Regions from separate parts of the Homo sapiens genome. Here all the other regions are reported to be linked to region 1. Evidence: microRNA targets listed by miRTarBase, many of them from high-throughput screens and not tested one by one. Region 1 holds a microRNA gene; each other region holds the end of a gene's coding sequence.
Evidence for each region. Region 1 holds the annotated microRNA hsa-miR-539-3p (AUCAUACAAGGACAAUUUCUUU, at 1,612-1,633, opposite strand). A microRNA usually pairs through its seed, bases 2 to 8, with sites in the 3' UTR of a target mRNA and lowers its output. Matches are read on the target gene's strand: a 7mer-m8 pairs with bases 2 to 8, a 7mer-A1 pairs with bases 2 to 7 and ends in A, and an 8mer does both.

Region 2: miRTarBase lists GRHL1 as a target of hsa-miR-539-3p. Seed matches in the 3' UTR shown: 7mer-A1 at 2,695-2,701.
Region 3: miRTarBase lists QSOX2 as a target of hsa-miR-539-3p. Seed matches in the 3' UTR shown: 7mer-m8 at 1,851-1,857.

What each region holds. Positions count from the first base shown.
Region 1 is chr14:101,044,807-101,049,001 of GRCh38, reverse strand. It overlaps MIR539 (microRNA 539), which reads right to left and starts at 1,681; the gene lies at 1,604-1,681. MIR381HG (MIR381 host gene) reads right to left here and starts at 3,845. Exons shown (of 3, transcript NR_104192.1): 1 at 3,818-3,845. MIR381 (microRNA 381) reads right to left here and starts at 3,082; the gene lies at 3,008-3,082. MIR487B (microRNA 487b) reads right to left here and starts at 2,547; the gene lies at 2,464-2,547. It also overlaps MIR889 and MIR544A. RefSeq lists enhancers at 2,236-2,736, 2,737-3,237.
Region 2 is chr2:9,999,834-10,004,028 of GRCh38, reverse strand. GRHL1 (grainyhead like transcription factor 1) reads right to left here. Exons shown (of 16, transcript NM_198182.3): 16 at 1,752-3,436. The coding sequence ends at 3,322. LOC124905970 (a long non-coding RNA gene) reads left to right here and starts at 529. Exons shown (of 2, transcript XR_007086207.1): 1 at 529-1,102.
Region 3 is chr9:136,205,023-136,209,217 of GRCh38, reverse strand. It overlaps QSOX2 (quiescin sulfhydryl oxidase 2), which reads left to right. Exons shown (of 12, transcript NM_181701.4): 12 at 1-2,885. The coding sequence ends at 490. LHX3 (LIM homeobox 3) reads left to right here and starts at 4,090. Exons shown (of 6, transcript NM_178138.6): 1 at 4,090-4,195. RefSeq lists enhancers at 1-231, 232-783.

The DNA of each region.
Region 1 (4,195 bases):
CTCCCTGAAGCAGGTCTTGTATCTGGGAAGCCCTTTGAGGCATGATTTGATTTTAAAGAAAAGTAATCTCATGCTATTTACGCATGTGAAAGTGAACCCTTGTTCACAAACCAAAACATGGCACGTTGATTCTGGGCCGTTCTCCCACGATGGACGGTATATGGCATGTGGGGAGACAGGCGACACATATCACAGGGAAAGCACCTGGTCTCCAGCCCCAAACCACTGTGAGTGTTGTCCACAGACCGGCGGTATTAGCATCACTTGAGAACTTGCTAAAAATGCAGAATCTTGGTCCCTGAATCAGAATCTGCTTTTTAACAAGATCCCTAGGTGATGAAAATCTTAGGAGCATTTTTAAAGTTTGAGAAACACTACTCTAGCCAACTATTCATATGCACACGCACACAAACACACACACACACACACACACACCCCAGAGGTGCTGTCGACCACAACGTCTTATTCCATGAGAGTCTGTCTAAGATGGGGTGGTTCCCAAGGAAGGCACGAAGCCATGCCACGTCCACCAAGAATAATCCAAATACCCAACAGGCAGCTGCTTAGGAGCTGCCAAAAAGTAGTAATAGTAACAGGAAATGTACGGAGTTTTTACTAATGTTTGCATTCCCTACAGGAAGTGTTTCATACTCAGAATGAAGGCTACAGATAGGAGAGGCTGGACCCAGGTTCCCCGGTCCACCATCTACCTAGAGAGAGGCTTGACCCCGGCATCTCTCCAAGGAATTCCTCGTGGCTAAGATTTAATAACAAGAAGAGAAAGAGAGATGAAATAATTGTGAACATCTTCCAATAAAAAGATATGGCACCAAGCCCCTAAATGGCATCTCCACCCCAAAGCTAGCATTTGTCCAAGGAAATCACACTGGTGGCTTGCATTCTGAGATCACTGGATTCATCATTATAAATCATCAACACAGTCACACTCCATGGTGGGGCAGGCACCAATGTCCCCTCACTGAAGTCAGCACTGTGCTTTCAAAAACTTCTGAAGCAAATTTGGATACTAAAACAATGGTTGTCCGATATTAATCATCATAAATATAGAGACCATACTACGGACAGCCATTCTTTAAGCACCAAAGAACTGTGCCATCAAGAAGAGCTGGGCATCTTCTCCAAAGTTGGTGTCTCTTCCAGAAAGTTCTTCTCAGGTAGTCCAAACAATGAGGATTAGCAGGTCAGCTTCACACATTGAGAGTCAAGCCCATGCCTGGGGGTCAGTCACACTCTTGGGCAGGGGAAGGGGGTCTGGCCCCAATGATCGGTCCCTAAGGTTTGCTTCATGTCCAAGAAGTGCCTCCAAGAAGCAGGATTTGATAAGTAGCTTGAATGCTGCGTCACCCACAACACACACCCATGGCCAATGCAAATCCCTGATAGCACCAAGGAGTCCCGTGGCCCCCTGCCAAGCGTGGCCCCGCCTCCAGGGTTCTGAGGTTAGGGCACAAGTGTCCCCACCACAAACCAACTGCATGCGCCCTCATCCCCACCCAGGCGTGAGCCCCTGGGAAGGGCTGATGCGTGCATCCCTTTACAGAACTTGTCATGGCGTCCAGGAAGTCTGCCGAGGCAAGATTTGATACTCAAAAAGAAATTGTCCTTGTATGATTCATCATAAATAAAGCGAACACACCAAGGATAATTTCTCCTCAAGTATGAAACAGCAGCACGGACCACCACCTCCAGGTCTTTGGCTCAAGGTTAGATGGTGACTGCTTCGTGGCAAACCCAGTCACACACTCGCTCATGCACACACACCACGCACACACAGGCATGCACAATGCATGCACCAAGTTTGACCTCTCTTTAAGCACCAGGGAAGCAAGATGCCATAGAATCCTCACTCAGCTTGGCATCCTCGCTCAAGACTCCTTCAAAGCGTAGATAGTGGCCGAGGTCAAGAACCCAGGGACTGTCTCTCTTAAGTGGAGCAAATGTTCTCGGCACCCCTGCTGACCCCCACTGCATGTGGCATTCTGTATCAAAAGCCACTGTGTGAATGGCTTAGCTGCCAAGCATCAAGAGCATCACTAGCCCCCATTGTAAACACCGTGTATGCTCTGGGCTTCCTAGTCCATTCCATACCCGATGAAGGACTTGACTTCCATGTTTTGACACTGTTCCAAAAACCCATGGAGAGATTTTAGTCATAAAACCACCACCACCACCACCACCACCACCACCAATGATAGTTTCACAGCACACAAGGGTCCTGGCTACCACCTACGAAGTGCCGACCACGGGGCTCTGCTCTGAGCCGTGTACAAGTCTTAACTCGTTCAGCCCCAGCAGCCCCAAGAAATGGACGCCAATGTGATTCCCCTTTGACATGTGAGACAATGGGCACAGCACGATGAGATCCTTGCCCAAGGTTGGACGGTTAGTAAATGTCAGAGGTGGGATCCAAACACAGGAAATCGAGCTCCAGAGTCTGCGCTCTTGATACTGAAAAAGTGGATGACCCTGTACGATTCGACATGAGCAAAACGAACAGGACAGGGATAACCACTCTCCAAGTACCAAAGGTTAGCACGGAAAAGAAAGCCACTGCCTTGGGTGGACTTGGTACGTCTTCAAGGCGCGGTCCTGGGGATGAATTAGATGCTGAGGGTTAGTGGACCGGGTCACATACCCCAAGCAGAACATGCACACTCACGGACCGAGTAACAGCAGGGACCACAAAGCCACTACCCCACACGAGCGCCACCCCAGCCATCGGCCCGGGCTGATGACTTCCCGCTCAGGAAGCAGGGACCCAGACCACACACATCGTGCATGCTTTTGGCCCCGCCCACACTGCACCAGGAGAGGGGATGTCCCAGAGGCCACTGCCTTCCCTAAAGTCATCCAGGTGCCCGTGAAGTCCTCTCTGTGAAGTGGGGACCCGTGAACGATTTGCCACACACAAAACGGATACACACGGTCATGCACACACATACCGCATCCCTTGCTGAGTGTGGACTGGGTCCAAGACAAGGTTTGATACTCACAGAGAGCTTGCCCTTGTATATTCCATGTCAATAAACCGAATATACAAAGGGCAACCTCGCTTTAAGTACCAAACAATAGCACTGGGCAGGTTCCTCACTATCATTCACGGGGCCGGCCTCCTCTCCCGGGGTTCATCCTGGCGGGGGAGGGGGTGGGAGATGCGGGATCAGCAGACCAGGTGGCAAACACCACCTGCCAGCTGTGTGCCCATAGGTCAGCTCTCCATCCCAAAGGGGCCAGGAAGGGGCAGACGCCAGTGCCCCTTCACCAGAATCAGCCTCTTTTCCAGGCATCACTCCAGATTAGAACTTGTTCCTGAAAAGGAGATCCACCCCACGGGCCTTCCTGGGCACACGCAGAGCTCAGCTTCTCACTTTCTATAGGAATTCCCTGGGGTGGGACCACCATCTCCTTCCCAGTGTGGGCACCTCTCCAGGAAGTTTTCCTAAGGATGCACTCAGCACCGAGGTCCCAGGCACTGGATGAATTTACACCTTAGACAAAGCAAAGGCCCTGTGGTCACCATCCCTTCATCCATCTCACAGAGCCGTTGACACCAGTGTCATTCTCCATGCCAGCCCTTGCCCCACCCCTGCCAGAGGCTGGCATCGTGGCCATGAAGCCATGCTAAGAAAGAGCACAGGGTCAACAGTAGTAAACCCCACGTACCCCCAAGTAACTGAGGAAGCAGACCCACAGCCCATTCCCCACAGTGGTCTCTCCTTCAAGAAGGGGAGAGGAGCGGGAGCCGCCTGGTCCAGGTGGCAGGTTATGTGACTCATTACCCAGGCGTGGTGCTCACCTCTCTTCAGCTGGACGTTCGCTTTCCTTGGGCTGAGGATGCTGCGAATGTCCTTCCTGAAGCTGGCTTCGGGTCCAGATGACCCCCATGGCAGTCGGGGTGTAAAAAGCCGGCAGTCACACGGCCCAAGGAGTGTCTCCACAAACACAGAACAAGAGTCCCATTCTCAGGCAGCCATCCTAGGTGTGAGCAGAAAGCCAGCAGTCAGAGACGGGGCACAGACATCGAGGCAGAAGCAGGCGCCCTCTGACCTCCCACATGCACGCACCTGGTGCGGGGCTGACAGCTCCCACGGCTCATCCCCAGCGCTGCCTTCATGGGCAATCACAAATGACAAATAGAAGCAAACCATTCTTACAGATTCAGCCTGGGGACTGC
Region 2 (4,195 bases), not on the chromosome of region 1:
GCTACCCCCTGCTCTCCCCGTCTTTCCTGCACTCTCAGCAATGGGATGGGCTGACTGATGCCCTGTGGGCTGGAAAGCTGACCACAGTTGCTGCAGACCAGACCCCCTCACATAGTGAGTGCTGGGCTGAGGAATCCAGGAGAGCCCGAGGGGGGACACTGAAGGTGTATCGTTGGCCCTGCCAGCTGCAAGTGAACTGCTTCTGATGAATTTTAATAGGGAGAAAGAAGTATTTGCTAAGAATGGCAATCCTGATGCTCAGCCTTCAACTCATCTTGTTATTAATACCATCAATATCCCATGAGGCTCATAAAACGAGTCTTTCTTCTTGGAAACATGACCAAGATTGGGCAAACGTCTCCAACATGACTTTCAGCAACGGAAAACTAAGAGTCAAAGGCATTTATTACCGGAATGCCGACATTTGCTCTCGACATCGCGTAACCTCAGCAGGCCTAACTCTGCAGGACCTTCAGCTATGGTGTAATTTGAGGTCAGTGGCCAGAGGACAGATCCCGTCTACATTATGAGTGAAGCGGAGAGCTACTGCAGGGTTCTGAGCAGAGTCCTAATTTATATTTTAGAAGAATCATCATGGCTCCTAGATTAGGAATAAAACGAAGGGGCCCAGGGATGGAAACGATGAGTCCAGTTGGGTTACTGCAAAGATCCAGGCCAGAAATCCAGGCACAGTGGCACACACCTGAGTCCCAGATAATTCCACCTACTGGTCCTGCTCTGTGGCCTACTGGTCCGAGTCCAGCCCCGACTGATTTCTGGGCCTGTAATGTCTAAAAACGCTCCCTGCTGATGTTTTGCAAGTGACTGTGTTACTTGAAGGCAGTTCCTAGGATAAACTAGTCGCTTTATCATTACAGAATCATTCACTGAGCATCAACTATGTAACCAGCATTGGGTTGGGTGCCAGAGATCCAAAGCTAAGACACCAAAACCTGCTCTCCAGGAAACGAGAGGCTGAGAAGAGGGCCAGCAGGTGTCTGTCAGTACTTGGAGCCGTGAGAGCAGGGAGTGGGTGCTGGGCTGAGGAACCAGAGGTAATGGCCCTGGGGACGCCCGGGAAGAGATGAGTTTTGAGGCAAAGGTAAGTCCCGGGAAGCCAGGGGGTGAAGGAGACCCATGGTGTGAGGAAGGGCTCCCATAGAAAGGATGCGCTGGCAGGGTCCCCAGGCTTCCTGTGTGGAGCTGGACTCTGGAAGCACTGAGTGAACGGGAACCCAGGCTGCAGGAGAGTCTCCACTTTGGCCCGAGGGTTACTGTGAAAAGTGCAGATGTCCCAGGAGCCCTATCAGGGAGTTTACGTCATTAATCTGATCTTGTATCCATTAAAAATATATCCTAGTGTCTATCATATTTAGGCCCTGGATTACCCTGGAATATGTTCAGGACGCCTGTTTTAGAGATTCTAATGATTTAAATATTGGTAAATTTTTAAACTAAGTATTTTCTGTTAGGCTTTTAAACACTAAGAATACTAAGATTTTAGGTATGAAAGCATTTACCTTCAGCTTTAGTGGTTAAATTTTGGTAAGAATTGGAAAATCATTCAGGGATCCCTGACTTAACAATTACGTGGATCATTTCAGGCATCAGTAAGGAAAAGTTAACATGAAGAAAACAACCTAAGCGCACACATTAAGAAATAAGCAGAAAGTGCTAGCAATGAGATGCTTTTCAGCTCTCACGTTTTACTGAGCAGTGCAAAGTCAAATTGAAAAACAGGAAATGACATATTACGAAATAGACATATAAAATTTAATTCCTTTGGTTTAAAATACATCTTCAATGATACAATTAAAAATAACACGCAAGACAAAATCAACTTCATAAAAAATACAAAAGTTATATGACCCATATCCCATATCTTATCTTAGAAAACCAGCAATTTAGTTCCCATACTTCATTAGAATACTTTAACCTAAGACTGTAACTACCAGTCCATTTACACGAATGACCTAGTCTAGTTCCCTGAACCTAAAGATACCCGTGACTTTGTTATAAAATTACATATTTTAGTATTTTTATATACTTAAATGTGTACAAAATGTTCCCCTGCCATAGTAACATATTTTTGTGAATTCATGAATGTTTTCTAGAATTGTTAACATACAAGATAATCAAAGCACGAAGGCTCTGATGCGTGATAAAATAATCATTTCTCAAAACAGGAAGATGAGAACTGCATTTCGAGTTGTATCACTTGGTACGCAATACTTGCAATCTGTGTGCTGTAATTACAGTGTTTCTTCACTCTAAGTGCATCTGACTGATACTAGCATAACAAAAGACGTGATTGCAGTAGTGTTTTTCTTTTACTTCATTTGTTAAACAGTGCAGAAATCCAAATAACAACATTCTCAACAGCAAACAGAATCTCTGTCATTTGAGAAGGTTTTGCTATGCTACAGAATGCCTGTGTTTGGAAAAACAGAGAAAAAGGTTTTTAGCGGGTTCCACTAAGCACAGTATTCTATCTGCTTGGTATACACGATCAAAAAATAACTTAACCTTTGTCTAGGGAAAGTCTTTAAGGTAGCTCTTACTGCATATCTTCACTATATGTACACAGACACCATATTTATATATTATATATTTATATAAGACATGTATGTACACATTTACAGACCTTCAAAAATATATTGCACTTATATACAATGCAGCTTTATCTTAACTGATTTCATACTGTAACCCATTAAAATTCTTCATGAGAAAGGCAGTTGATATGTCCGAGAAAGTCGCAAAGGAAGATTTCAGTAACATGCCCTGTTTAGTAAACATCTGGTGGAGAGTGAGAGGGTAAGGGAGAGAGGGCTCCCCCCGTACTCTTCAGGTGCGCTCCCGCTAACGTGAGGCAGTGGAGTTGTACTGAATTCAGGCAAGGGCACGAAATCCTTAAAGCCAAGCCTATCGCCTTTTCTGACTTCTGCTAGCGAGCAGGCCCACGACACTGTAGGCACAAGGCAGAGATCCCAATATTTTGATAAATAACGTAGCAGATGTCCTAAAGCTTCCCAGAGACTCTGTTAACTCTTGGAATAAAGTTTTCACTTTAAATCCTGTATATATCAGGAAATTCAAACATAATGGTATATGGATTTCTCTTTCATCTGAAAAACACCAATGCAATAGATTAAATGCTACCACCAAGCCAGATGCAGCCCCGCCTCCAACCTGCAAGGAACCCATTCCCTCGACATAGACCTGTGCTGGCGACATGGCTGACTGGGGTTACCTGCAGTTGCCAAACCGTAAGATCTAGAAACACCTGCACTGAACTCCTGGGGAGCTGTGGCCCGCAGGCCTTTAGATCTCCGTCAGGGTGAGCTTGTAAGACCCCCCGGCTTCTTCAATCTGCAGCTGGAAGGTGTCCTCATTGGAGTAATGCTTCACAATGTTGTCGTCCATGTTCACCAGGATCCTGGATGGGGGGGGACAAGACCAACCAACTTCACTGCCACTTGGTCCTGGAGTCAGACCTAGATTGACCTGTTAGCTCTCCCACTTACTAGTTGCAGCATGTGAGGCAAATTATTTAAATCTCCTTAAGCCTCAACTTCCTCATCTATAAAATGGGGATAATAATAGTACCCATCTTATAGGATTGCTGAGAGAATTGAGTTAGGAGGAAATCAGGTGATATATTTATATCATAGCATTTGGAAAATGAAATATACTGGCTTATTTATGATTATTATTTCCAGCATGTATTTCATAGTTGTCACTTGGTAAATGGTACTTGGCTCATACCTGTGATGCCAGCACTTTGGGACGCTGAGGCAGGAGAATCACTTGAGCCCAAGAGTTTGAGACCAGCCTGGATAACATAGCAAGATCCCATTTCTACAGAAAAATTTTAAAAACTAGCTGGACATGGTGGTACATGCCTGTAGTCCCTGCTACTTGGGAAGCTGAGGTGAAAGGATGGCCTGAGCCCAGGAGTTCAAGGCTACAGTGAGCTCTGATTGCACCACTGTACTCCAGCCTGGGCGATAGAGTGAAACCATCTCTAAATGAATAAAGCAAAAGCACATCAATAACACTAACTTACATGATGTGAAGTCACAGCCCCCTGACAAATTACACACTCCAGCAAGTGAGCCTCAAAGTTTAAATGAACTACTATTATCAAACAAAAAATAAAGAATACAAAAACAAGAAAATAAACAAAAATAAATTA
Region 3 (4,195 bases), not on the chromosome of region 1:
CCCAGCCTGCCATGAGGAAATTAAGGGCCTGGCCAGCTGGGATGAAGGCCACGTGCTCACATTCTTGAAGCAGCACTATGGCCGCGACAACCTCTTAGACACGTATTCCGCAGACCAGGGGGATTCCAGTGAAGGAGGAACCCTGGCCAGGGGTGAGGAAGAGGAGAAAAGACTCACTCCCCCAGAGGTGTCCCATGGAGACCGAGACACCCAGAGCGTCCGTCCACCTGGTGCACTGGGCCCCAGGCCTGCCCTTCCAGAGAGCTTGCATCACAGCTTGGACGGGAAACTCCAGAGTCTGGATGGGCCCGGGGCCCACAAGGAGGTGGGCGGGGCCGCACCCTTCCTCGGGGTTGACTTCTCCAGCCTGGACATGAGTCTCTGTGTCGTGCTGTACGTGGCTTCATCCCTGTTCCTCATGGTGATGTACTTCTTCTTCCGGGTGAGGTCCAGGCGGTGGAAGGTCAAGCACCACCACCCGGCCGTGTGAGTGCCCGGGTGCTGCCAGCCACGGCGGAAGCTCCCTTGGAGGCAGCCCTGCCCCGTGCCACCTGCAGCTTTAATATTTATGATCAGGGATTTTATAAACATGCGGGCCTGGTTTCACATCGGATGGCACCTTTTGGCTTCAAAGTCCTGGTTTTACAAACGCTCTTCTAACAAGGGAAGAACACGGGGTAATTTTGTGGGGATATTTGCATTCCTGGCGTACTCAAGTCTGTTCATGCTCCTTTTGCAGGTCTTACAGCAAAAAGACTTCTGTATTTTTACTCTTCTAGATGTGAAAAGAGGGTGCAGAGTCCAGGCCAGATAGTCTTCCCCACACACTTTCATCTCGTTTCCTCCACTCCGCCCCATCCTGCAGGGCCTTGTTTTTGTATTTGGAGAACCTCGCCCATCCCCCCCGCGGCTCCTGGCTCCCCCCCACTCCCCTCGCTCCCCCTCCCCCCGCTCCCCCCACGCCCCCTGCTCCAGGCTGCCAAGTGTTTTCCTTTAGCCGGGCGGGGACAGACAGAGCCGGAAGCGCAGTCGGCCTCTGCAGCCCCTCCAAGCAAGTGCTCCAGGGACTATCCTGTGTTTGTAGCTGCTTCCCTAGGGCAGGTTCCTGAGGGCTCTCCTTGTTCCTCCGGGTGTTCGACACCAGACGTGGGGATTTCAACAGGGGAGGAGCCAAGGAATTCTGTGGCTGTGCTGCGTTTCAGAAAATAACCCCCAGAGGCCTTGGGCTGTGGACCTGGGGGTTGGAAGGATGGGGGCTCATTTAACCCTCAGAGGCAGCGCCTTTGTCTGTCTATCTGGTGACAAGAGAGAGACAAGTAAATGGGGGCCGTTGGGACGGCGGGTGCCTGGAGGGCAGCTCTGGGCTCAGCGGGCAGTGCTTAGAGCACAGGCCCCTCTGTTGGGGGATGGGGAGGAGAGCAGTCTGCCCTTGGGAGCGTAGGCCCCAGGGAGACTTCTAAAGCCCCCCCTGTCGTCTGCTCTTCACCCAGCACCACAGAGGCACCTGCTGCACACACAAGCATCTCACTCGGCCCACGGAGGGGGCCAGGCTTCCTTTGCCTGAAGCTGTTTTGGGAAGGGTCTCCACACAGGCACTGATCTCCCAAGCTTTTGTCATGATGTCTTTTACCATTTGATAATTTTAAACATTGTTTTTAAACCCAAAACATTTAGTGGTCCGTTGCCTCTGAAGATGTAAACAAACAAATACACTATTTCTGGGAACATTTATATTGAGATTCTTTGTGGCTATTGGTGTGTCTCACAGGCAAAATTTGATTTGGCTAAAATAGGCTCAGATGTATTTGTGTGCCCGTGTGTGTGTGTGTGTGTGTGTGTGTGTGTGTGTGTGTATGAGAGAGAGAGAGACTTTGACGGTTGTAGATATTTTTTCCGCTTTGCCTACTTTATGTTGTATAATCATGTGTTTACTAACAAGTTGATGACATGGATGTATTCATAAGACCATGTAATATTGATGTGATTGTTGTCGCTTGAGAAAAAAAGGCAACAGCTGATTCTTTCAACAACTGTCACAGAATGGCTGGGCTGAGAACGCTGCCCAGGGCCCTGCAGCTGGCGGGAGAGGTGTCTGGTGGGAGCGGTGTCTGGTGCGTCAGCCTGCTGCTTCGTGTCTCACTCGAGAGTTGCTTCTGGTTTCACACTTTTTAACCCCTCTGTGCTTTAGCAGCCGTGACCTTGCCTTCATTGCTTCATCCAGTGCAGGCCTGGGTTATTGAAGACACCAAAGTGTTTCTCTTCCAGTTTGAAAACCAGGCAGGTTTACACGTGGGTTTCAGTGTATTTGCCTTTGAACCCTTCAAACTAAACTTTAGCCTTTTGGCTGGTGTTGAATGTCTTTAGCTGGGGTGACCTGGAGTGACCTGGGACGGTGTTGTGGTTTACCGTCTCCAGCTTCAGCCTTTCCAGAAACCCTTGTGGAGGGCAGTGTTGGCTGCAGGTTTCATCATATTGCAGTTTGAGGTCACCACTATTTGGGGAACAAGCTTGCGTCCTGCTGAGGGGCAGGATTTTCAGCAGAGCGTCGGTGGGGCTGGGCCGTCGTGGAGGTGGCCCCAGGAGTCATATGGCCATACTCAGACACACCTTGTGTGGCCTGCTCAGAGCTGGATGCCACCTTTAGGCAATGTTTAGAGTCTATTTTCTAAAGTTTTAAGTATTTTAAGAGGTATTGAGACTAATGAATATAATAGTTCAGTAATTTAAATGCTTATTTATTTTCAGTGGAAGGATTTTTATTAAAAAGAAGCTAATTGACATGGAAATGTCAGTGAAATTTCTTACCTGCAAGGAAAGTGAACATTTTGTATTTAAGTAAACTATAATGTGCACATTTTAATAAAGAAATCTGACATTTGAAAAAATGGTGATTCTTTTGAAATGTGAACCAGCTCTACCAGTGGGAGTTGTGGTAGAGGCGGTGGGTGCAGAATGGACCCCTCTTTTGTTCACGTACTGGACATCTGAAATCCTAGAGTTTCTCCTATCGAATCATTGGCTTTTGGGACACAGCCCAAGGGTCGGATGGAAAGTAGAAGATGGAAAGCAGTGATAGATCATCTCCCTGGAGCTGATCTGGACGAGACTCACAGGACAAGACCCTTGATTTTACACAGGTTAAAGGGCAGCTGAGATGCATGTCAGCTACACACTTCAAAGAGCACGCGCGGCAGCCCAGCCTGAGGGCACCTCAGAGGACCCCCAGCTTGCTTGAGTGGCCATCCCTCTGCTTCCTGGGTGTGAGTGTCCTGCTAAGGCTGTTTGTGGTGTTCTGTGGGGTGCCCTTGACCCCGTGTTGTCTTCTGCCCCTCCCCTACTTTTGCTGTGCCAGTGGGGGCAGGGCAGTGGTCAACAGTCTTGCCTGTGGCTGTGGAGGAAGCCGGTTGGCACCTCCCTGGCCAGGCTGTGCAGAGGCTGGCAGTAACTCAGTCACTCGTCAGGCACCGAGCAGACACCAGCCTGGGTGTGTACTGGGCGATTCCTTCAGGCCCTGCCTATGCCCAAGGTCTTGAGTCCTCAGCAGTGCTTTTGTTACAGGGGACTGCAGGTGCCTCTCCTCCTGGCAGCCCGGAGGGGTGCGGGCTGAGCTCCTCCCAGAAGTTGGGGGTTGAGTTCAAGGAGGTTAAGAGTGGAAAGTTCCCTGACCAGCAAAACACCTGCAGGAGAGTGCCCCAGTGAGCCCTGGGCTGGAGTTGATCACGCATGGGGCTGCCCCGGGGCACGGCCTGGGCACTGCCTTCCAGAGGCTGCACGCCAGAAGGGTAGGGTCAGTGTCCTCCTGCCCTGCGGCTGGACGACCCGCTTGCTGCGAAACTCGGCGAATCCCAGCGCCTCAGCAGGGCCTGGAGCTTAGGGAGGAGCGGGCACGGCCACCCTGGGTCTCAGAGGGGTGAGGGCGGGGGCTGCCTTGAGTGCGGCCCAACCCAGCCAGGGAGGGAGGCGCGCCCGACACGGGGCAGAGGCGGGGGTGGGGACCGGGGCGACGAGAGGGGCCCCGGGAGGTGGGCGGGCGCGCGGGCGGGGCGGGCAGCGGGCGCCTCCTTCAGCACCGCGGACAGCGCCAGGCCCAGTGGCTCCCGGGCTCCCTGCCCCGCACGACGCGGCGGGACTTGGGAGCCCCGAACCCTCCAGGGGACGCTGACCTAGGAGGAGCGCGTCTCGCGCCACTCGGCCT